Homo sapiens: one gene and its partner. The protein of the gene in region 1 binds, or shares a complex with, the protein of each later gene. Each region holds a gene or a part of one and is shown on either strand. Other genes may lie near its edges. The genes, in order: PSMB10 and PSME4.

Evidence for each region.
Region 2: PSMB10 (region 1) and PSME4 share a complex: the UniProt entries of both Homo sapiens proteins name them as parts of the spermatoproteasome.

What each region holds. Positions count from the first base shown.
Region 1 is NC_000016.10:67,931,004-67,942,352, forward strand, and holds PSMB10 (proteasome subunit beta type-10), read right to left. Parts: upstream 5,848-11,349; 5' UTR 5,747-5,847; coding exon 5,691-5,746; intron 5,483-5,690; coding exon 5,395-5,482; intron 5,310-5,394; coding exon 5,212-5,309; intron 5,101-5,211; coding exon 4,960-5,100; intron 4,695-4,959; coding exon 4,579-4,694; intron 4,476-4,578; coding exon 4,417-4,475; intron 3,946-4,416; coding exon 3,794-3,945; intron 3,669-3,793; coding exon 3,557-3,668; 3' UTR 3,503-3,556; downstream 1-3,502. Other genes in the region: CTRL (chymotrypsin-like protease CTRL-1 precursor), read right to left, coding at 95-198, 798-849; LCAT (phosphatidylcholine-sterol acyltransferase precursor), read right to left, coding at 8,901-9,475. UniProt on the Homo sapiens protein: The proteasome is a multicatalytic proteinase complex which is characterized by its ability to cleave peptides with Arg, Phe, Tyr, Leu, and Glu adjacent to the leaving group at neutral or slightly basic pH.
Region 2 is NC_000002.12:53,958,442-53,969,306, forward strand, and holds part of PSME4 (proteasome activator complex subunit 4), read right to left. Parts: intron 1-10,865. UniProt on the Homo sapiens protein: Associated component of the proteasome that specifically recognizes acetylated histones and promotes ATP- and ubiquitin-independent degradation of core histones during spermatogenesis and DNA damage response.

The DNA of each region.
Region 1 (11,349 bases):
GGTCAGGGCTCAGAGGTCAGAGTGGGGGTGGGCTGCTGAGGCTGCCCCTAGGCATGACGTACCCAGGACCCTGCCCACCCCTCTGGTGGTGTACCTGCAGGGACACCTGCCAGGGCCAGGAGCCCAACACTGCATTCTCCCCGTTGACAATCCTCTGGCTGAAGCTCAGTGCCGGTTTGATGGCAGGAATGCCGCAGCCTGGCCATTGGGCTAATGAGGACCTGCTTCCCATGCCTCAGCCCATCTTTCCCCACCTCCTTTTGGGTGCCCCAGGCTGTGCACCCCAGAGAGGTCTGTCGAGAGGGTACAGCACTACCCCTTCCCCAACAGGGTACATGCAAGCACCTTCGGGCCCCACAGCTATCTTGGTTATCCCTATCCACCCAGTCCCCCAGCCCTGCTGTTCTCCTACATCTGTCTCCAGCCTAGTCCCCGCTGTTCCCCATCTCTACCCCTGGTCTCTCTGCCCCCTCCCGACCTGAACAGTTCATACCCTTCATGCAGCCAGAAGGTTCTTTCTAAAAGACATGGACAGGTCTTCCTGTCTCAGCTTCCTAAACCCTCCCGGGCTCCAGGGCCTGGCTCAATCTCTGGTCCTATTTGTGAGACCACCCCACCTCTTGCCCCCTCCCAGCCCTGCAGGCCTGTTCCCTGCTCCACTGCCCTGGCATATCCTGTTTCTTTTGCCCACTCTGTCCACCTTCGTCCCTTCCAGCCAGCCTAGCTCCTTCCCTGGGCTGTTGCTGGGAGCTGAGTTGCTCCCAGGGCTGAATCAGGGCTGGTCCTGGCCCACTCACCCCAGGAGGAGCCGAGGAGAACCAGGCTTAGGGTCAGGCTGAGCAGCAACATCGTGGCAGATGTGAGGTTGGGAGCTGGGTCTGGCTTTATGGGTCTTCTCGTCCTTGAGCTAAAGCTCCAGGCCTGAGGCCAGGCCAGCTGTGTAGACTCAGCCCCCTCCCACGCTCCAGGCAAGACAGGCCCTTTAGGCCAAGGTCCCCTGACCGAGACCTAGACTTATCAGACAGAGCCCAGGTGTGAGACTCACCTCTGCCACCTCCCAAAGCCTGGCCTCTAATTGGCTCCCAGAACCACCTCCCATTCCAAATGTTGAGCCCTCGGTACTGAGGACAGATGGTTAAATTAGGTCTATAGTGACAACCTGGTGGCTGGGATCACAGGAGTCACCCAGGGCTAACAAAGGCACCAGGCTTTCAGAGAAGGCCGCTCAGCGTCCAGGGTGTTCTGACTGGTGGATGGAATGCTCACTGCGGTCAACTTTGCTGTGAAGGGCCAGGGGCTGTGAGGTTCTGGCAGGCTGGGAGTCCTAACACATCATCGCAGTGGTTCCTCGTCCATTTGGAACAGGAGTCACAGGTCTGCTCAGAGATGGTGACTCTCCCACCAGCACGTGGTTGAGTTGTACACAAACTCGCATTTGTCTGGCGCTGAAGCCTCCGCTCTTAACAATGAGATGATACTTATGAAGGGCCTGGCATTTAGGAGGGCAAAGTGTGAGCTCTTGGTGCCTGGCCGACCGTGGACTGAGGCTGCAGGTGGAGAGTGACAGACATCAAATCTCTGCCACCCTCTTTAGGCCTTGGGGCTCCCATGGGCAAGCCCCTGGTGTCTGTAGCCCATTTGTTACTGAGCTGCAGACCAAGCTTGAAGGGAGAAGACACCCTGTGTGCAAAGTTCCAACAGGTGCATTGGCTGGCGGCCTTCTGGGAGTGTGAGGGCTTTAACTGATTCAAGAACAGATCAGGGCTGGGTGTGGTGGCTCACACCTGTAATCCCAAAACTTTGGGAGGCAGACGTAGGAGGCTTGATTCCAGGAGTTCGAGACCAGCCTGAGCAACATCATGAAACCCTGTCTCTACAAAAAAAATTTTTTTAAATTAAGAAATGAGCTGGGTATGATGGTACACACCTGTAGTCCCAGCAACTCAGAAGGCTGAGGCAGGAGGGATCACTTGAGCCCTTAAGTTCAAGGCTGCAGTGAGCCATGAGTGCACCACTGCATTCCGGCCTGGGCGATGGAGCTAGACCCCATCTCAAAGAAACAGCATCAGCCAAAAAATGAGATGAATTGGCTGGGCACGGTGGCTCACGCCTGTAATCCCAGCACTTTGGGAGGCCGACGCGGGCGGATCATGAGGTCAGGAGATCAAGACCATCCTGGCTAACAGGTTCAGTAGAAACCTCGTCTCTACTAAAAATACAAAAAAAAAAAAAATTAGCCGGGCGTGGTGGCGGGCACCTGTAGTCCCAGCTACTCGGGAGGCTGAGGCAGGAGAATGGCGTGAACCTGGGAGGCGGAGCTTCCAGTGAGCTGAGATTGCGCCACTGCACTCCAGAGCCTGGGTGACAGAGCGAGACTCCGTCTCAAAAAAAAAAAAAAAAAAAAGGAGCGATGAATTAATGGATAGAGGGATGAATAGATGATAAAACAAATATAACAAAATATTTGCACTCCAGAGCCTGGGTGACAGAGCGAGACGCCGTCTCAAAAAAAAAAAAAAAAAAAAAAAAAGGAGCGATGAATTAATGGATAGAGGGATGAATAGATGATAAAACAAATATAACAAAATACTGTCAGGTCTGTGGTGACCTGACAGTATAAGGGTATTCAATATACAACTCTTTCTACTTTTCTGTTACATTTACAAATGTTCATTAATAGAATGTTGGGGTGCAGGGAGCACACTCAGCGGCCTGGGGATGTGCAGCCCGGCATAGACCCTCCCTGGGCCCTGGGTAGACTCTCCCTGACATTTCTGAAGCTCCAGCGGAGTTCAGCCGTTCTCGCTGAGGACAGGATGCTCTTGCTGGCACCCAGCAGCCAGGCCTGAGACTCAGCAGGGGCCCAGCAAAGGTTTGTTGGAGAAACGTGTCATCTCTCCCCATGTGAGTCCTGTGACCCTTATTAGCCTGGAAAACTTGGAGTCACAAGCCCAGCATGTGCAGACAGAAGACGAGCTTCACGTGAGCAGTGCAGGCATGCCTCGTCATCTAAGGGGTGTCACAGGTAAAGATGTTGCGAGGTTGAGGAGTGCTTGGTGAGAACTTGCCTTGGAGTCAGGGAGCGGCTCCTCTTGTCAGCACTTTAGCCCTCAGTGGGGCCTGTGGGGGCCTGATTGAAAGGTATGAGCTTTGTCCTGGGCCACTGAGGAGCCATGGAAAGTCTCTAGGAGGGGGTAGTACATGGGGTATTTCATAATTTACAAGTCTCCAGTGGACTAGAGGGCAAGAGCAAGACAGTGGAGTGGTGGGGGAGCCTTCAAGTGTGGAGTCAGAAGGAAGGTTTGGGTGGAGACCAAGCCTGCAATGCTGGCCAGGGCTGGGGTTCTGGAGTTGTAGGTGCCTGAGGTTATGGGTGAAGGGCATCTCTTAGGCCAGACACTAGAGCTATGGTAGGTAATGGCCCCTGCAGGGACGCCTTAGCTACAGAGCCCTGCTGGCTGCCTGCCCACCCCATTCCACTCAAGAATGACACAGCCATCTGTTTAACTGTATTTTCTGGGTTTATTCCCCCTTGTTCCAAGCTCTAAGCCTCAGCTTACTCCACCTCCATAGCCTGCACAGTTTCCTCCACTAGCTCCAGGGTTAGTGGCTTCACTGTCTGGGTCAGGACAGCTGTGGTTCCAGGCACAAAGTGGTAGCGGCCAGACCTGGGAGGGAGGAGGGACAGCCTCTGAACATGGGCCTGTCATGTGGCCCATCCCCTTTTTGCAGCCCCCTATCTCCCCTGCTATAGCCCCACACATCCCTGTGGTCCCCGATCTCCAGCTCTCACCTCTTCACGGGCTCTGTGGGTGAGCTCAGTGTCCGCAGCAGCTTGGCGCCAGTCTTTGTGATCACACATGCGTCCACATTGCCCCCGGAGCCCAGGTCACCCAAGATCCCGGCGGTGACGGCTTCCACCAGCAGCCCCTGAGCAGCCTCCAGCTGCGGTGATGGGTGTGTGAGACCTAACGGGCTCTCTCTGCTGTTAACTTAGGCTACAGCCTGGGGACTTGCCTGTCCACTTACCCAATCTGGTCTTGCCCTCCAAACCCCCACTGTGTTTCTCCCTCTGAGCCTTAGCCACCTCTGAGGCAACATCACCTGCTTCCATCCCACCCCAAACAAAATCTAGGCTCCAGACGTTGATATAAGTAGGACCCTACTGGTCCTTCTCTCCGCCCTCGGCTCCTAAAGATCCTCTGTGAGCTTCGACTTCTCCCAGCCGTGCAGGCTTTGGTATTGGACGGTGTTATGTCGGGACCGCACTTCTCTGCCCTTACTCCACTCACCCTTCAGTGGTCACCTCCTCCGACAAGCCTTAGCCACCCGCACTGGGCCAGGGTCCTGTGCTCCCCCAGCTCCCGGGTGCACATCCCACCAGCGACCACAAAGTCGGGGACAGAGGCCGCTCACCGTCATGTTCGGCTGGAACCGGTCTTCTAGCACCGCCAGGGCCGCGTCCTGACCAGAGCCTGAAGGCAGGAGAAGCATCTGAAGTCAACCGCTGCGACGCCGTTTGGAGTGAGGCCAAGGTCACAGGGGCAGAGTTCGAGGAGAAGGGACAGAAGCGCTCACCCAGGGCTGTGAAGGGCAGACGGCTGTAGGAGCCATGGGGATGCACACCGTAGAGCTGCGGTCCAGTCAGGTCTACGCCGCCCACGATCAGCGATGCACCCACGTGGCCCTGGTACCTGCTCGAGGATGGGCGGGGTCGGCCACAAGCTGGGGCCTAGGCCCCACCTCTCTATGCCCAGCTCCTAGGTGCTATCCCCGCCCCTTCCTGTGGGCTGGCGCCCGATGACTGACATCGCCTTTTCCTGTAGCCCAGGTTCTCTTGGGCCGGCCTCTTCCGGTCACCTGGCCCGTCGCGGTCCCGCCCTTCTTTCTGTCCCGCCTTCCAATGGCCCCAACCCCGTAACTACCCCTGCCGGGGTCCTGTTAGCCCTGCCCCCGCACCTGAAGAGCGTCTGGCGCAGGATGCGAGTGACCGTGGCCACGCGGGGCTCGCGGCCCGTAGATAACGCGTGTAGCTCCATCTTGGACGCCACCATCCGTGTGGTCATCTCGGCGTCCGCGGCTACTCCAGCCCCACAGCAGCTGAGGCAAAAGGGAGGATCGGTGTGGGCAGGGCTGGGACGTGCGGGGACCGGAGTGGGAACGAGGGGGCCGTTCTTTTTTGCGTACGGGAACTGGGCTCGGGAGTCTCACTAGATTTTGGGGGCGATGAAGTGGATCTTCTCGCAGCTCTTGTCCGCCACGACCGAATCGTTAGTGGCTCGCGTATCGGCGCCCAGAATGACCCCGTCCTGAGGAGAGGGAGGGACCGCAGCTTCAGTGCCTGCTCGATACTCTCGGCTCCCCTCCAGCTCCCCGTCCCTCCCCGCTGCTCACTTGGAACACCAGGCCCGCGATGGTGGTCCCGGTCTTGCGTGCGTGAGGGACCTTGAGCCCCGGGAGGACGCGTTCCAATGATGCATTTCTGGAAACGGAGGAGGGCGCCCATGTTTCGGCTCTGCTTTCAAGACCCCTGTTGCTTCCCCTAACCTGGTCCCCGTCTCCCTCATCTTCCGGGGTAAGCCTGGAACCCAAGTCGACCAACACACCCTCCCCCACCCCCAGCCAGGAAAAAAGGCCACGAGCAAGCAGAGGCGGCTCAGGAGTGACCGCCCCCCGCGCCCCCGCTTCACCTTTGGCAGTTCTCGAAGGAGAAGCCCCCTCGGGGCTCCAGGGCTGGCTTCAGCATCTTGGGGCAGGCAGAGGGGATTAGGGGTCGCGGGCGGATGAGTCGGCCAGACAAGCGGGGCCAGTGAGCAGCTAAAAAGTCCTCTGCTAGGCTTCACGTCTGTACTTCCTGCTTTCGCTTTCGCCTTTACCCTTCCTCAAAGGCCCGTGGCGGTTTTCTGCATCTTGTCTTTCACTTTTGGCTTCACTTGTGGCTCTGAGCATTTGGGGAACCGGGTGATGTCCCTTGCTGTGCCCTCTGTGCTGCTCACTGGGTACTCTGTTGGATAGAGGGACAAATCTCTTCCCTTCTGGACTTGTTCAGGTCCTCCTCCCCCTCCATCTGAGCCCCTTGCTCTTACCCTAGCCTCAACTCTGACCTCCAGTCCCAGCATAGTAAAGCTCTCAGAGCCTTGGCCAAGTCAGCATTGTTGCTGGCCACCCAGTAGCATCAGGCATAGCTGACTTTTGTTCCTTGTCACCTTTCTTCCAACTCTTGCCTCTTTTGTTGCCTTTACTCCTCTGCAAAAACCTCAAACAGAGGCTCAGTCCTCAGTCACAGGGACCCTGGTCTTTCCATCTTCCATCTCAGGTGCCATCTTCCCTCTCTCAAGAGGGCACCATGGGTGTTGGGTTCCACTCATGGCCAAGCCTTGTTATTTCACCTCCCCAGTGACCTCTTGTCTGCACACATCCTTTTCCTAGCACTTCTAGTCTCAGCTAGCATCCTCTCCCACCTGGACATTGCACTGGCCTCCCTGGTTACCTTGCAATTCTTGCCCCCCGCCCCCCGACCCCCAGGCTACTCCTTACCCTGCAGAGAGCGGGTCTTTCTAAATTGGAAATCTGGTCACATTCTTTCTCTGGTTTAAACCCTTCAGCAGTCTGGGCCTGGTGGCTCACACCTGTAATCCCAGCACTTTGGAAGCCCAGGAGTTCGGGGCTGCAGTGAGTATGGATCATACCATTGCACTCCAGCCTGGGCAATAGACCCCGTCTCAAAGGGGGAAAAAAAAGACTTGGGTTTGAGGCTAAGAGCAGCACGCAGCTGCCAAAGGGTTTATCTTAATTTTTTTTTTTTTTTTTTGAGATGGGGTCTTACTCTGTTGCCCAGGCTGGAGTACAATGGTGTGATCTCGGTTCACTGGAACCTCTGCCTCCCAGGCACAAGCACTCTTCCACCTCAGCCTCCTGAGTAGCTGGGACCACAGGCACACACCACCATGCCTGGCTAATTTTTTTTTTTTTTTTTTTTTTTGGTAGAGATGGGGTTTCACCGTGTTGCCCAGGCTGGTCTTGAACTCCTGAGCTCAGGCGATCCACCCTCCTCAGCCTTCCAAAGTGCTAGGCTTATAACCATGAACCACTGTGCCTGGCCTATTTTACGGTTTTTTTTTTTTTTTTTTTTGGACACAGGGTCTTGCTGTTGCTCAGGCTGGAATGCCGTGGCACCATCTTGGCTCACTGCAACCTCTGCCTCCCAGGTTCAAGCAATCCTCCCACCTCAGCCTGCCTAGTAGATTTGACTACAGCTGTGGCTACACCTGGCTAATTTAAAAATAAATTTTTTTTTTTGAGACGGAGTTTTGCTCTTGTTGCCCAGGCTGGAGTGCAATAGTGTGATCTTGGCTCACCGCAACGTCCACCTCCCAGGTTCAAACAATTCTCCTGCCTCAGCCTCCCGAGTAGCTGGGATTACAGGCATGCGCCACCATGCCCGGCTAATTTTGTATTTTTAGTAGAGACGGGGTTTCTCCATGTTGGTCAGGGTGGTCTCAAACTTCTGACCTCAAGTGATCCGCCCACCTCGGCCTCCCAGAGTGCTGGGATTACAGGCATGAGCCACCGCACCAGGCTAATTTTTAAAATTTTTGTAGAGATGAGGTCTCACTATATTGCCCAGGCTTGTCTCGAACTCCTGGGCTCAATCAAGTCAAACCCAAGTCTTTTTTTTTTTTTGAGACGGAGTCTCGCTCTGTCGCCCAGGCCGGACTGCGGACTGCAGTGGCGCAATCTCGGCTCACTGCAAGCTCCGCTTCCCGGGTTCACGCCATTCTCCTGCCTCAGCCTCCCGAGTAGCTGGGACCACAGGCGCCCGCCACCGCGCCCGGCTAATTTTCTGTATTTTTAGTAGAGACGGGGTTTCACCTTGTTAGCCAGGATGGTCTCGATCTCCTGACCTCATGATCCACCCGCCTCGGCCTCCCAAAGTGCTGGGATTACAGGCGTGAGCCACCGCGCCCGGCCGAACCCAAGTCTTTACAGTGGTCCATTACTCTTCTTGTCACTCTGACCTCAGTGTAGGCACTGCCTCCTCTGGGAAGTCTTTGCTGACCTGAAAGGCTCAGCCTCTTGTGCTTCCTAAGCTTTTCTCAGAGCATTTAGCTTCATTAGTAATTAAACTTCCATTAGTGAAATGATCTGATTAATGGTTGTCACTCCCAGATTTTAATTCTAACTTTTTTTTTTTTTTTTTTTTTTGAGACCCAGTCTCTTTTTTTTTGAGACAGTCTCATTCTGCCGCCCAGTCTGGAGTGCAACGACGTGATCTCGGCTCACAGTGACCTCCACCTCCCAGGTTCAAATGATTCTCGTGCCTCAGCCTCCTGAGTAGCTGGGACGACAGATGCATGCCACCACGCCTGGCAAATATTTTGTATTTTAGTAGAGACGGGGGTTTCTGCCATGTTGGCCTGGCTGGTCTCAAACTCCTGAGTTCAGGTGATCCGCCTGCCTCGGTCTCCCAAAGTGCCAGGATTACAGGCGTGAGCCACCGTGCCCGGCCTCTAAACACTTGTGGCCCTGTCATTCACCCAGCACTCAAAAGGTCGTCTCACCTGCCCTTTTGGGAGCTGGGAGAGACAGCTCAAATTGTCACCGCCCCCCCACCGCCCCGTGCTCCTCTGACAGGGCTGTGGGTGGAGCCAGCTCCAGTCCCCGCGCCCAGCACAGAGGCAGGCACGGTGCACACTGCCTCAACAGCTCGACCAGGAGAGTGGGCAGCTGTACATCTAGGGTGCCCAGCTCAGTCCCAGGCCTCAGCAGAGCCCATCTTGCCTCACTGCACACAGCACTGAGCCTGTGGCTGGTGAGGAGTGAAACCTAGTGTGGGACTCTAGTGCCTCCCTTCAACCTGAAACATAGCCATCAGGGCTTACGGTAGCAAAGGAAGGTCTTTATTCAGGAGGCGGGGGCTCTGGGCTGGCAGTCGGGGATGCAGGGGGACCCTGGCGGTAGGCACCCAGCAGGATGGCATTGATGTGCTCCAGGGTCAGGTTGCTGAAGACCATGTTGAGATGCTGTATCCCGTGCAGGGGCAGCAGGTGCACAGGCTGTGGCTGGCGGCCCTGCCACAGGCCACAGAGCTCGGTGCTGCGGGTCGCCACCGTGTCATCACCATCCTCATAGAGCACACCCACAGGGTCCGTGTAGGGGAAGCCGTGGTCGTAGATGTAGGTGCGGGGCGTGGGCAGGCCCACGCCGTAAAGACAGTATACTTCCACACCAGGTGCTGGGAGTCCTGCCAGGAGGTCACGTGACTGCAGCCACATGTACCAGCCTTCCTCAAAGTGCAGGTCTGCAAAGAAGCGTTGGAAGTCACGGCCTGTGTAGTTGAAGCTGGGTGTGGAAATGAACACGTGGTCCTCAGGCCACGCCATGCGAGAGGGAAACATCCAGGGGGAGGTGGTGGTTATGCGCTGCTCCTCTTTCAGCTTGATGCTGGACATGATGGGGATGCCCTGGTTGTCACCTGTGGATATGGAGCAAGGTGGGACAGGGAGCCAGGCCTGGCTACCCCTGGCCCACAACCTGCTGAGTGTAGGCTCAGCCAGATGCTCAATCTTGTCCCTGCCCAATCTAGACACAGACTCTAAGCCACAGGCTTGAGCAGGCCTGATATTCAATGATGCTCAGTGTCAGCTTACTCAATGAGAAGCCCTGATAAGACCTCTGTTGGGTGGAGCTGTAGGGCTTCAAAAGGATGGCAGGGACAGGCACCATGGCTCACCCCTGTAATCCCAACACTTTGGGAGGCTGAGGCAGGAGGATCACTTGAGGCCAGGAGTCCGTGACCAGACTAGGCAATGCAGTGAGACCCTGTCTCTACAAAAAAAAAAAAAAAAAAAATCAGCTGGGCTTAGTGGAGTGCACCTCTAGTCCTAGCTACTCAGGAGGCAAAGGCAGGAAGATTGCTTGAGCCTAGGAATTTGAGGTTACAGTAAACTATGATCGCACCACTGCACTGTAGCCTGGGTGACACAGTGAGATTCCAGCTTAAAAAATAAATAAATAGGGCCGGGTACGGTGGCTCACACCTGTAATCCTAGCACTTTGGGAGGCCGAGGCAGGCAGATGACTTAAGGTCAGGAGTTCGAGACCAGCCTGGCCAACATGGGGAAACCTAATCTCTACTAAAAATATAAAAATTAGCCAGGCGTGGTGGCACATGCCTGTGATCCTAGCTACTAGGGAGGCTGAGGCAGAAGAATCACTTGAACTGGGGAGATGGAGGTTGCAGTGAGTGGAGATTGCACTACTGCACTCCAGCCTGGGAAACAGAGCGAGACTCCATCTCAAAATACATAAATAAACAAATAAACATTTTTTAAAAGGCCCAGCACAGTAGCTCACGCCTGTAATCCCAGCACTTCGGGAGGCTGAGGCAGGAAGATCACTTAAGGTGAAGAGTTTGAGACCAGCCTGGGCAACATAGCAAGACCTCATCTCTACTAAAAAACAAAAATAAATTAGGTGTGGTGTTGTGTGCCTATAGTCTCAGCTAACCAGGAGGCTGAGGCAGGAGGATTGCTTGGGCCAGGGAGATTGAGACTGCGGCTATGATCACGCCACTGCACTCCAGCCTGGGCGACAGAATGACCCTGTCTGAAAAAGAAAAAAAAAAGTAGGCGGGGCTTCCTGAGGACCAGGGTGTGTGGGGATGGTGGGTGAGGCCCAGGATGTGTGGGGATGGTGGGGGCGGTGCTGGCTGTCCTCCCTCGGGCATGTGTCTTTCTGCTCCTTGTGTGGCTTATGCAGCAATGGGGGCCACAGAGTTGTGCTCCAGAAAGGGGGAAACAAGATGGTGTCTGTTTGATGTTTATTGGTGGTGTCTGATGAGCGTTTCTCTTGTCCAGACTGTGTTTCTCTCTCCAGACCAGCTCCCAGGGTACAGGGGGTGGGGAGTAGGTGGTAGCTGTGTCAGTGCTGGGCCCTGGTGCCACTCCCTAGGGAAGAGCAGGTGGGGCCTCGGGGGGTCTGGCCCTAGCTCTGGCAGATCCATCCTCAGTGAAGCACATCCCTGGGCAAAGGCACTCCTGCGAGCAAGTGGAAGGCAGGCAAGGGCTGGGCAGGCAGGCTCTGGGGCTACAAGAACAAACCCTGGGAGCAGATAGCTGGGATTCACTTTCTGTGTTCACTGCCCCTTTGCCATCACTGACACAGACTCTGGAAGGAGCCACCCTAATTGCTCAGGCCAGGGTCACTGCTCTGGGGGCCAGTGACAGCAAGCATGCCAGCCCAGGAGTGGTAGATAGCACCCCTAGAGGCCACTGTGAGCAGGAGCCGCAATGAAGGCAGGCCCAGGATCAGCTTGGTCTCACCCATCGCTGGACCTAAGTGTTCGAG
Region 2 (10,865 bases), on another chromosome or scaffold:
ATTCTGTCCAATCTGATTATGATACAGTGTAAATCAGAAAATACTAATGGGATTATAACCAAGAGAAACCAAATCCATTTGAAAACACACACGAGTCTTAATTAAACAGTCAATATCAGACTTTAAGGCATTCCTCTCCCAAGAGGCGCTTCCTTTAAAGTCAGATTCAGGACAATAATGACTATTCTTACCATTATGATTCAGCATTATTCTGAATCTAGATCAAAAGAATAGGTAACAAAAATTAGGGTAATTATTTCAGGTAAGGTGGAACTAAAAGTATGGTGTCAATGCTATGATTATACCTAAAACATCTGAAACAACTTAAAAAAAAAACACTTTTAGACTAAACTTTAAAATCTACTGAATACATATTTAAAAAAAAAAAAAAAGTCAGGAGCCTTCCTGTATAGCATCCAGATAAAAAGTAACAGTGTTGACGGAAGATTGTTCCATTCAAATTACCAACAAAAAAATTAATTGAAAATTTCTCAAAGAGAAATATGCAGGAATTACATGTTAAAACTTTACTAAAATGTAAAATATTTAAACAAATGGCGAGAAATAAGGACTTTTTAAAATGCCACTTAAGAGCTGGGCGTGGTGGCTCACACCTTATAATCCTAGCACTTTGGGAAGCCAGGGCAGGTGGACTGCTTGAGCCCAGGAGTTTGAAGCTAGCCTGGGCAACATGGCAAAACCCTATCTTGACTAAAAATACAAAAATTATTTTGTATTTTTTACTGATTATTGTATTTTTTATTTATTAATTATTTTGTATGTACAGGTGGTGTGCACCTGTAGTCCCAGCTATTTGGGAGGCTGAGGCAGGAGAATCGCTGGAACCCAGGAGGCAGAGGTTGCAGTGAGCTGAGACCATGCCACTGTACTACAGCCTAAGTGACAGAGCGAGACTCTGTCTCAAAAAAAAGAGGGGGGAAAAAAAGCTGCTTAATCCCTGACAGCTAGGGCTAAATGACAAATATTTTACAGCAAGGAAAACTACCATGACCCATGAGATCTCTGAACGACCCCCTCAATTAATTTCAGGCAGTAACTTCAACTCCTGCCCACCCAAAATAAACACTTCACCATAGCTATATCAGTTCCAGTCTTTTCCTTCTCTTTCCAAGGTTTCACCATATAGAAATAACAAAAAAGAGAGGTAAAAGTAGCAGAGAAAACTAAGGGATCAGGAACAAATTACTGTGATTTTATTCCAAGACTAAGTCCTTCATCATTACATATAATATTAAAAATGTAGATAAAGCTTCTCACTGCCAGAAACACTGAGTGAACAAATAAGAGGAAAGGTTTTTTCATAAACTCACCTCCCCTATTTTCAATTACCTGTATATTCAAAAAGCATTTCTAGAGCAAACAACACATACAAGACAATAATGACTCAAACAGTTCCTTTGGGCCAACAACTCGCAATCAAATAAGACAGTCAGATATGACATTCCAAGTACCTGGAAGACGAAACATGTAAAAGTGAAATAAAATAAAGCATTAACAGATTTTTGTGGATTGATTTTTTTAGCCCAATTTTCATCATATATTAAGTGGTCATTGACTTTGAAAGTTTAGAAAGCTGTCATCACTTAAGTTATACCCTGAAGAGGCAACCTGAGGTCAAAATAATCTGACCATCTGCAGAATTAAGAGTCATAGGAGGCCAGGCATGGTGGCTCACGCCCGTAATCTCAGCACTTTGGGAGGCTGAGGCAGGTGGATCACTTGAAGTCAGGAGATCCAGACCAGCCTGGCCAACATGGCGAAACCCATCTCTACTAAAAATACAAAAATCAGCCAGGCATGGTGGCGGGCGCCTGTAATCCTAGCTTCTTGGGAGGCTGAGGTGGGAGGATCACTTGAACCTGGGAGGCGGAGGTTGCAGTGAGCCAACATCAGGCCGCTGTACTCCAGCCTGGGCAACAGAGCGAGACTCCATCTCAAAAAAAAAAAAAAAAAAGGCACAGGAGACAGCTCTAGCTAGAGGAGCAGATTAAGAATGCATATTTCGGTGGCAAGGAGAAATAACAGAATAAAATGTTGTAAGTTTCTATTCTAGTTTGCTTTGCAACTAACATAATCAACTCTGGATATAACATTTATTGATTTCAACCAGTAGCCAAGTAAGCAGGAACAGCATGGTTCTACAACTCTGTTAAGAACTCAAACTGCTCTGTCAGTCCCTTGGGGAAGTCATTTAATCTCCATAAAATCTGGCTTTCTTCACAAGGCTATGGTGACAGACTGATAAACGTACATGAAAGATGCTATAACTTAACGGTTCTTCAGTGGGGCTCTGGGTACCAGTTGCTTTTGAATTTTTTTTTATGTTCCACAGATGTATCACCTGGTTTGAAAACCACTGGACTGGCCAGGCGCGGTGGCTCATACCTGTAATCCCAGCACTCTGGGAGGCCAAGGCAGGCGGATCACGTGAGGTGAGGAGTTCGAGACCAGCCTGACCAACATGGAGAAACCCAGTCTCTACTAAAAGTACAAAACTAGCTGGGCATGGTGGCGCATGCCTGTAATCCTAGCTACCCAGGAGGCTGAGGCAGGAGAATCGCTTGAACCTGGGAGGCAGAGGTTGCAGTGAGGCAAGATGGTACAATTGCACTCCAGCCTGGGTGACAGAGCAAGACTCAGTCTCAAAGAAAGAGAGAGAAGAAATGTTAAGTGTAAACCAAATACAGAAGTAGTCAACCTCAAGGTTCCAAATGGGAATATTTATAGTATGTGCTGCTTTTAACATTCCAATAGAGGTCTCAATGAATGTAGAGGTTTTCTGTTGCTGTTGTTGTTTGCTTACCGTTTTTACTACCATGCTCTCAGTTTGGTGTTCATATAGAATGAGATTTTGATCTAATTTTCTACAAAGGTTAGACAGAAACATAGATTAGGATTTTTGTATTTGAAAAGGAGGGAAGAGGCGCTAGGTGCAGTGGCTTATGCCTGTAATCCCAGCACTTTGGGAGGGCGAGGCAGGAAGATTTGAGCCCAGGAGTTTGCGACCAGCCGTGGCAACATAGTGAGACCCTGTCTCTACAAAAATAAAAATAAAATAATAAAAACCTAGCTGGGTGTGCTGATACATGCCCGTGGTCCCAGCTACTCCAGAGGCTGAGATGGGAAGATCGCTTGAGCCTGGGAGGTTGAGTTTGCAGTGAGCTGTGACAGCGCCACTGCACTCCAACCTGGGCGACAGAGCAAGACTGTCTAAAAATAAGGGGGGGAAGGGGGATGTTTGAAATGCTCATTCCCCATTGCTGTAAAGAAACAGCACTTCAACATAAATTTAATTTCCTCAGCAAGGCCATTTTTATACTTTCTGCAGAAAAGGTACACTCGCCAGCAGTTTTGCCAGGAGAGTACACCCAACAAAGGAGACAGGGTCATTTATAACCCGAAGCGTCCACCCTACTGTTGTGTCCGGTTTCCACTTGCTAGAACGGGACCTCACATTCTGTATTTGTCCCGATTGGCTAGCAACTTAGAACTTTTTAAAAGAGGCAAAGGCAGAGAACAAAGGAAGGAGGAAGTAACTTGTGGAATGCTGAGAAAGATAAAAACACCTTCAAATAAGGAAGAGGAACAGGCTATGACCTAATGCTTGCTTGGACCAGTATAAGCATGCCAGGGCAAATATTTAGGCTAAATTGTGGGAGCTAAGAACATAAAGTACATTGATTTCTTCATTATGGCTAGCAGATATTTAAGAATGTTTGCAAGGGTCTTTGAATAAATTTTGCTTGTAAGAGAAGTTACTATTTATTCCTAATTAGATGGGGAGGAAAGTCTTTGAAGAGGAACCTCTACTTTTTACAGGGGCGAAAGGGATTCTCTAAAAATAAGTCTCATTTAGCAGAAAAAAGTTAATTCCCAGGTTCCATAAGAAAAACAGTTCTTAGAAGTTATATAGTTATATGCTTATTTACAAGCTTGCCAAAAAAAAAAAAACAGTAAAAATTTGCCTCCACTTCAATTAACAACAGGTATTTCAAATACAATTTTATTTTACAACACTGCAGAAAGAACACTTGGGAAAACCATTCTTAAGTGACATTCAGATCTCAGAACATCAAACGGTACATTTCTTTTTTCTAACTGCCTTTCTTAGTGCCTCAAAGTAAGGCATTAAAACACAGTGGTCAGAATGAGATTTTCTTTTCAAATAATACATTCAGAATTCCTATTTTCTTCAATGTTTTTGATGAAGTTACCACCTGGCCTAGTCTGTCCTAAATGAACAAAAATGTGCACTGAATAAAGCACACAGCTGGGCACGGTGGCTCACGCCTGTAATCCCAGCACTTTGGGAGGCTGAGGCAGGCGGATCATGAGGTCTGGAGATCGAGACCATCCTGGCCAATAAGGTGAAACCCCATCTCTATTAAAAACAGAAAAATTCGCCAGGCATGGTGGCTGCACCTGTAGTCCCAGCTACGCAGGAGGCTGAAACAGGAAAATCACTTGAACCCAGGAAGTGGAGGCTGCAGTGAGCCGAGATCGCGCCACTGCACTCCAGCCTGGGTAACAGAGCGAGACTCAGTGTCAAAAAAAAAAAAAAAAGGACACATACCATATGCAGTGGCTCACGCATGTAATCCCAACACTTTCCCAACACTTTCAGGAGGCAAAGGTGGAGGATCACTTGAGCCCAAGAGTTCAAGGCCAGCCTGAGCAACATAGTGAGACTTTGTCTCAAGAAAAACTTTAAAAATTAGCTTGGCGTGGTGGTATATGTCTGTAGTCCAAGCTAACCAGGAGCCTGAGATGGGAGGATCGCTCGAGGCCAGGAGCTCAAGGTTAAAACAGGGGGGTATGATTGCACTCCCTATGATTCCAGCCTGGGTAAGAGACCAAGACCATCTCTTCAAAAAAAAACACACAAAAAAGAAAGAGCGCACTGAAACTTCCAGAGGGCAGAAAACTTGCGCTGATACATCCCAAACGCCAAAACCAGTGCCCAGCCCACGCATTGCACTCAAAAAATTGTGTTCAAAGAAGATTGATGTCTGCCTCTACTACACTGTATTAACCCATGACTGTACACTAACCTATGAGCCTCTTGTGTCTTCATTTTTTAAATGAAGGTAACTTAAGAGAATACTTGTTACCCCAGGATTGAGTCTAAGTCTTCAAAGGTAAAAGGCAGAAATGAAAGATGTCATAATGTGAAAATGTTCATTAATGAGCTATTTTCTTGATCTCTGTCCATGAGATTTGATTACAGTAAACCTTAGGCAAAAAAATGCAAATGAAATGGAAACTCAGAAGTAAAATCACAAATTTGGCAAAGAAGCAGAACCTTATGAGATTGATCAAAGTGATAATAGATGTTAATTTTTTTAGGTTTTATAATAGTATTGGTATTGCTTTTTTTAAAAAATTCCTTTTCCTTTGAAGATATATACTGGAAACATTCATGAATAAATAATATACTTCAAAAACAATGGGGAAAGGGGATGATGAAAAGAACATAACTGGCCATGAGTTAATTAAGTGAAGATAGGTGATGAGGTTCATTATATTGTCTTTTGAATATTTGATATTTTTCATAATAAAAAATATGTAATGAAAAGAGTTTAAATATTAGAAAACTTCAAATCAGAAACACACATATGCTCATTGGCCAGTGATGTTCAGGAAGAAATAGCCAATTAACTAGTGAAAAGAAAACGACAAGCTGTTTTCAAGAAATTACTGAGAGATCTCTGGAAAACAGTAAGGGCCTCAAATATTTTTGAAAAAAAAGTATATGTGTGACATCATCATGAAAAATCAAATGTATGCATGTGTAGAGACAGAGGGTATACAGGAACTCTATACTTTCCATTCAATTTTGCTGTGAACCTAAAATTGCTCTCAGAAATAAAATTTTTGAAAAAATCAAATATGAAATATGTCTTATTGTGCTATTACATTATACAACTTTATCAAAGAAATTCATGTTCTCCAAAATCAGTTCCTTTTTTTTCCCCTTATGGAAAATCAACTTTCTCACTACAAAGAAATTTTGGTTCCCATTTTGAATGATCACTTAACAACAAAGTAAAACCTCTTCTATCACTCTCTCTAACTGGTTCTCACTGATGAGTTTGGTAACTTGTCAAGATTTCAAGATTCATTTACAAATAAAACCACTTGCATTTATTGTGTACTTCAATTTCAATACTCAAACATTAGATACTCTTAGGTGCCTCATACCAGACAATGCAGATTCAGCAGTTAGCATTTCCTTTCTTTCCCAACACGGGGATGATATGAATGTGGGTGCTCCTGTGGCCACTTATTACTTTCCACAAGAGAAGGTTTGTGTATTTGATAACTCATACCTTGACTACACCTAAGTTTCTGGTGGTTACATAATCTAATCAAATACATTATGTGGTTTCAACTGGGATAATCAATCCACGAAGGCTGCATAATATTTGTAATAATAAAACAACTGTACTTTCAATTCTAAAGGGTGCCACAGTTTTAATTAGCAATTAAAATGACTTCACATTATAATATAGTCACTTAATCATAAAACAATACAAAACATGTCACTGTAGCAAACAGGGAATCTAAATTTGCTTCATCTTACACCAAACCCACATACTTCACTAAAATCAAAATTCTGTTTAAACACACACACACACAGACACACACACACACACACGAATCATGGATGGGATAAGTTGTAGGAAACAGTAATCCATTCGCTTATTCTCCATCCTTTTCCCGCCCTTTCCTCCAGACCAGTTTACCAGTTTAAAAGGAACAAAGAACTAGAAAGGCCAAGTGATTTTTTTTTTTTTTTTTGTAAGACAAGAGTCTCCCTCTGTCGCCTAGCCTGGAGTGCAGTGGCGCCATCTCGGCTCACTGTAGCCTCTGCCTCCCAGGTTCAAGCGATTCTTCTGCCTCAGTCTATAGGCGAGTGCCACCATACCAGCCTAAATTTTGTATTTTTAGTAGAGACAGGGTTTCACCATGTTGGCCAAGGAACTCCTGACCTCAAGTAATCTCAGCCTCCCAAAGTGCAGGGATTACAGGCGTGAGCCGCCACACCCAGCGCATCCAAGTGATTTTTCCAGCAGTATGTTGTGGAGCCCTGAGGAGGTTTCAAGAGTTCTACTATCAAGGAAGTATTTTTTTTTTTAATGAGTGGGGTTTTAATTTGCCTGAGGAATCCAATTTCAAGTTTAAAATTTTGGTTGTGTGTTTTTTTGTTTTTTTTTTTTTGAGTCAGAGTCTCGCTCTGTCGCCCAGGCTGGAGTGCAATGGTGCAATCGCAGCTCACTGCAGCCAGCCTCTGCCTTCCGGGTTCAAGCAATTCTTCTGCCTCAGCCCCCCGAGTAGCTGGGACTACAGGCACCCGCCATCATGCCCGGCTAACTTTTTTTTGTATTTTCAGCAGAGACGGGGTTTCACCATGTTGGTGAGGCTGGTCTCGAACTCCTGACCTTGTGATCCACCTGCTTCAGCCTCCCAAAGTACTGGGATTACAGGCGTGAGCCGCCACGCCCAGCCAAAATTTGGTTTTTTAACACTCCACTACTGGCACTACATGGTGACTCACGCCTGTAATCCCAGCACCTTGGGAGGCCGAGATCTTGGGCGGATCATTTGGGGCCAGGAGTTTGAGACAGCCTGGGCAACATGGCAAAACCCCCTCTCTAATAAAAATACAAATATTGGTCAAGTGTGGTGGTACTCACCTGTAATCCCAGCTACTTGGAGGCAGAGACATGAGGGTTGCTTGAACCTGGGAGGCAGAGGCTGCAGTGAGCCGACATTGTGCCACTGCACTCCAGCCTGGATGACAGAGCGAGACTCTGTCTCAAAAAATATAAAAATAAAAAATAAAACACTCCACTACTTAATTTAAAGTTTGAAAAACCACTAATAATCTAAAATCTTGCCAGGATAATAATGTTAGGCAGGCCACGGTGGCTCACGCCCATAATCCGAACACTTTGGGAGGCCGGGGTGGCCAGATCATTTGAGATCAAGAGTTTGAGACTGGCCTGGCCAACATGGGGAAACCCTGTCTCTACTAAAAATACAAAAAAATTAGCCAGGCGTCGTGGCACATGCCTATAATCCCAGCTACTCTGTCTCCAAAAAAAAAAAAAGATAATAATGTTGGAGGCAAGGCCAGATACACCTCACGTACAGATAACCTGAGGTGTTCTAACGAGCACCCGCAGCCCCTCATGAAAGGTCCAGAAAGGCAAGAGGGCAAAATCAAGTTTTTTGGGGTTTTTTTCTTTGTTGTTGTTTTTAAGATGGAGTCTCGCTCTTTTGCCGAGGCTGGAGTGGCGCTTGGCTCACTGCAACCTCCACCTCCCAGATTCAAGCGATTCTCCTGCCTCAGCCTCCTGAGTAGCTGGGATTAAAGGCGTGCACCACCATGCCAGGCTAATTTTCTTAATTTTAGTAGAGATGGGGTTTCACCATGTTGGTCAGGCTGGTCTCGAACTCCTGACCTCGTGATCCGTCTGCCTCGGCCTCCCAAAGTGCTGGGATTACAGGCATAACAAAATCAAGTTTTAAGAATACCTTTCTTCAACTCCCTTCATTCTCTACATGGGCCATACAAGTTATCTACCAATATTTCACTCACAGTGTCCATGAGCTGTCTGCCATTGTCCAAAGACCATTAATTTGTTCCTACTTTCTCTAATTTGTTTCAACTTCTCTGATTTGTTTCTTCCCTTATTAAAAATTTCCCTTGTGATGTGTTACATCACACAACCTCTCTTGACCAGACAGTTCTAGTACTTTAAATTGTCTGTACAGGAAAGCCTCTATCACATGGCCAAGTATTTAAAAATATAGAAATAACCTTTCTTCAGAGATGTTAAACAGACCTGCAAGTTTCTAAATGGACTGAACTACTAAAAATGAAGAAAAAAGTCAAAAAGAAGGCTGGGGCGGTGGCTCAGCCTGTAATCCCGCACTTTGGGAGGCCGAGGCACACAGATCACCTGGGTTCGAGACCAGCCTTGCCAAAATGGTGAAACCCCGTCTCTACTAAAAATACAAAAATTAGCCAGGCGTGGCAGCGCACAACTGTAATCCCAGCTACTCAGGAGGCTGAGGCAGGAGAATCGTTTGAACCAGGGAGGTGGAGGTGGAGGTTGCAGTGAGCCACGATAGTGCCACTACACTATCTTGTGTCTGGGCAACAGAGTGAGATTGTCTCAAAAAAAAAAAAAAAAAAAAAAAAAAAAAAGTCAAAAAGAGGGACCAAATGTAAAGCCTGAGAACCTTCCAAACCAGAACTTGGTCCCAAACACACCTCTGATGTCCAGATTACGGGTGCACATTTCTGATCAGCAAGATAGTCCCACTAACTCTCAACTGCATTTACACTTTGGTCTTTAGGAATGTACTTGATCTATGCAACTGTTTCCAGTATTTTACAAATTATTCAAACAGTTCTTGTAGAAAGATACACACAATGACTGATGTGAAGCTTGACAGGATTAAAAAAATAAAACTGCAGAATACCAGAGTAGAAATGCTTCTCAAGAATTTAGTCCAGGCCGGGTGCGGTGGCTCACACATGTAATCCCAGCACCTTGGGAGGCCGAGGTGGGCAGATTGCTTGAGGTCAGGAGTTCAAGACCAGCCTGACCAACATGGTGAAACCCTGTCTCTACTAAAAATACAAAAAAAGTAGCCAGGCATGGTGGCACTCGCCTATAATCCTACCTACTTGGGAGGCTGAGGCAGGAGAATCGCTTGAACCCGAAAGGCAGGGATTGCAGTGGGCCAAGATCCTGCCACTGCACTCCAGCCTGGGCAACAAAGCAAGACTCCACCTCAAAAAAAAAAAAAAAAAGAATTATTTAGTCCAATCCCCTCATTTCACGCACAAGCATACTGAAACACATGATTAAGTAACTTTCCCACAGTCTCAGAGCTAGTGGGAGAAACTAGATTTTCTTTTCATTACCACTTTCTATTCTACAAAGTACTAAATATGATCACCACTCAGCTTTCGTCACACGTTTTGGCATTATTCAGATGTTCACTTATGCAACACAGAAGGCTTAAAAAACAACAAGCACAACTATGAACAGGTCACCTTAACATGACTTAGGAAAAAAACACACCCAAGATCACAACATGTCCCACCGCATTCAAAATGTCTCATAGTGCAATATCAAGAATCAGTTTCCAGCATCTAACCACTATTCCAAAATAAAATTCTACCCAGTAGCATTTCTTGCTGGTTATTTAGCTATAAATGGTTATGGGTTCATGGGTATTAAGCCATCAGCTATCTGCAATCCAGCCCTAAACACCAAACATTAGCTCCATTGTTATTTTTAGCCCTTTCTAGGTACAAACTTTTATCTAATAAGCCAAAACAATAACAAAACTCGGAGTGCTAATTTACCAAACTTGTTAACAATAAATACTTTAGAAAACAATGCTTAACTATGCCTTGGTAGATTCTAGGTTTATAAATCCAAAGCAGATATGCCTTCACACCATGGCATATTTATATAATGTACACTAAAAAAAGCTGTTTGCGTCCCCAAAAATGGTAGGTATTCTCTGGCAAGTCTAATCCAAGTGATTAAAATGGGGAATTACTGTAACAAAGTGACTATTTTTACTGTGCCTGAGCAACACAAAAACCTAGGAGTCTCACTTGAAAAAGCATTTGGATTTTAACTATTTATAAAATATTCTTTTTTGACTAAACGTGGTTCTCCCTGTTGCATTCCTGCTTCTGCCGCCCCTCACCTCCATTCTCCTAAGGATCCTAACACGAAAAACTTCATTATACTCTAGTCAAGGGGAGAGCTGTTAACCTTGACATTTTATGATCACTCTCTGAAGAGGGC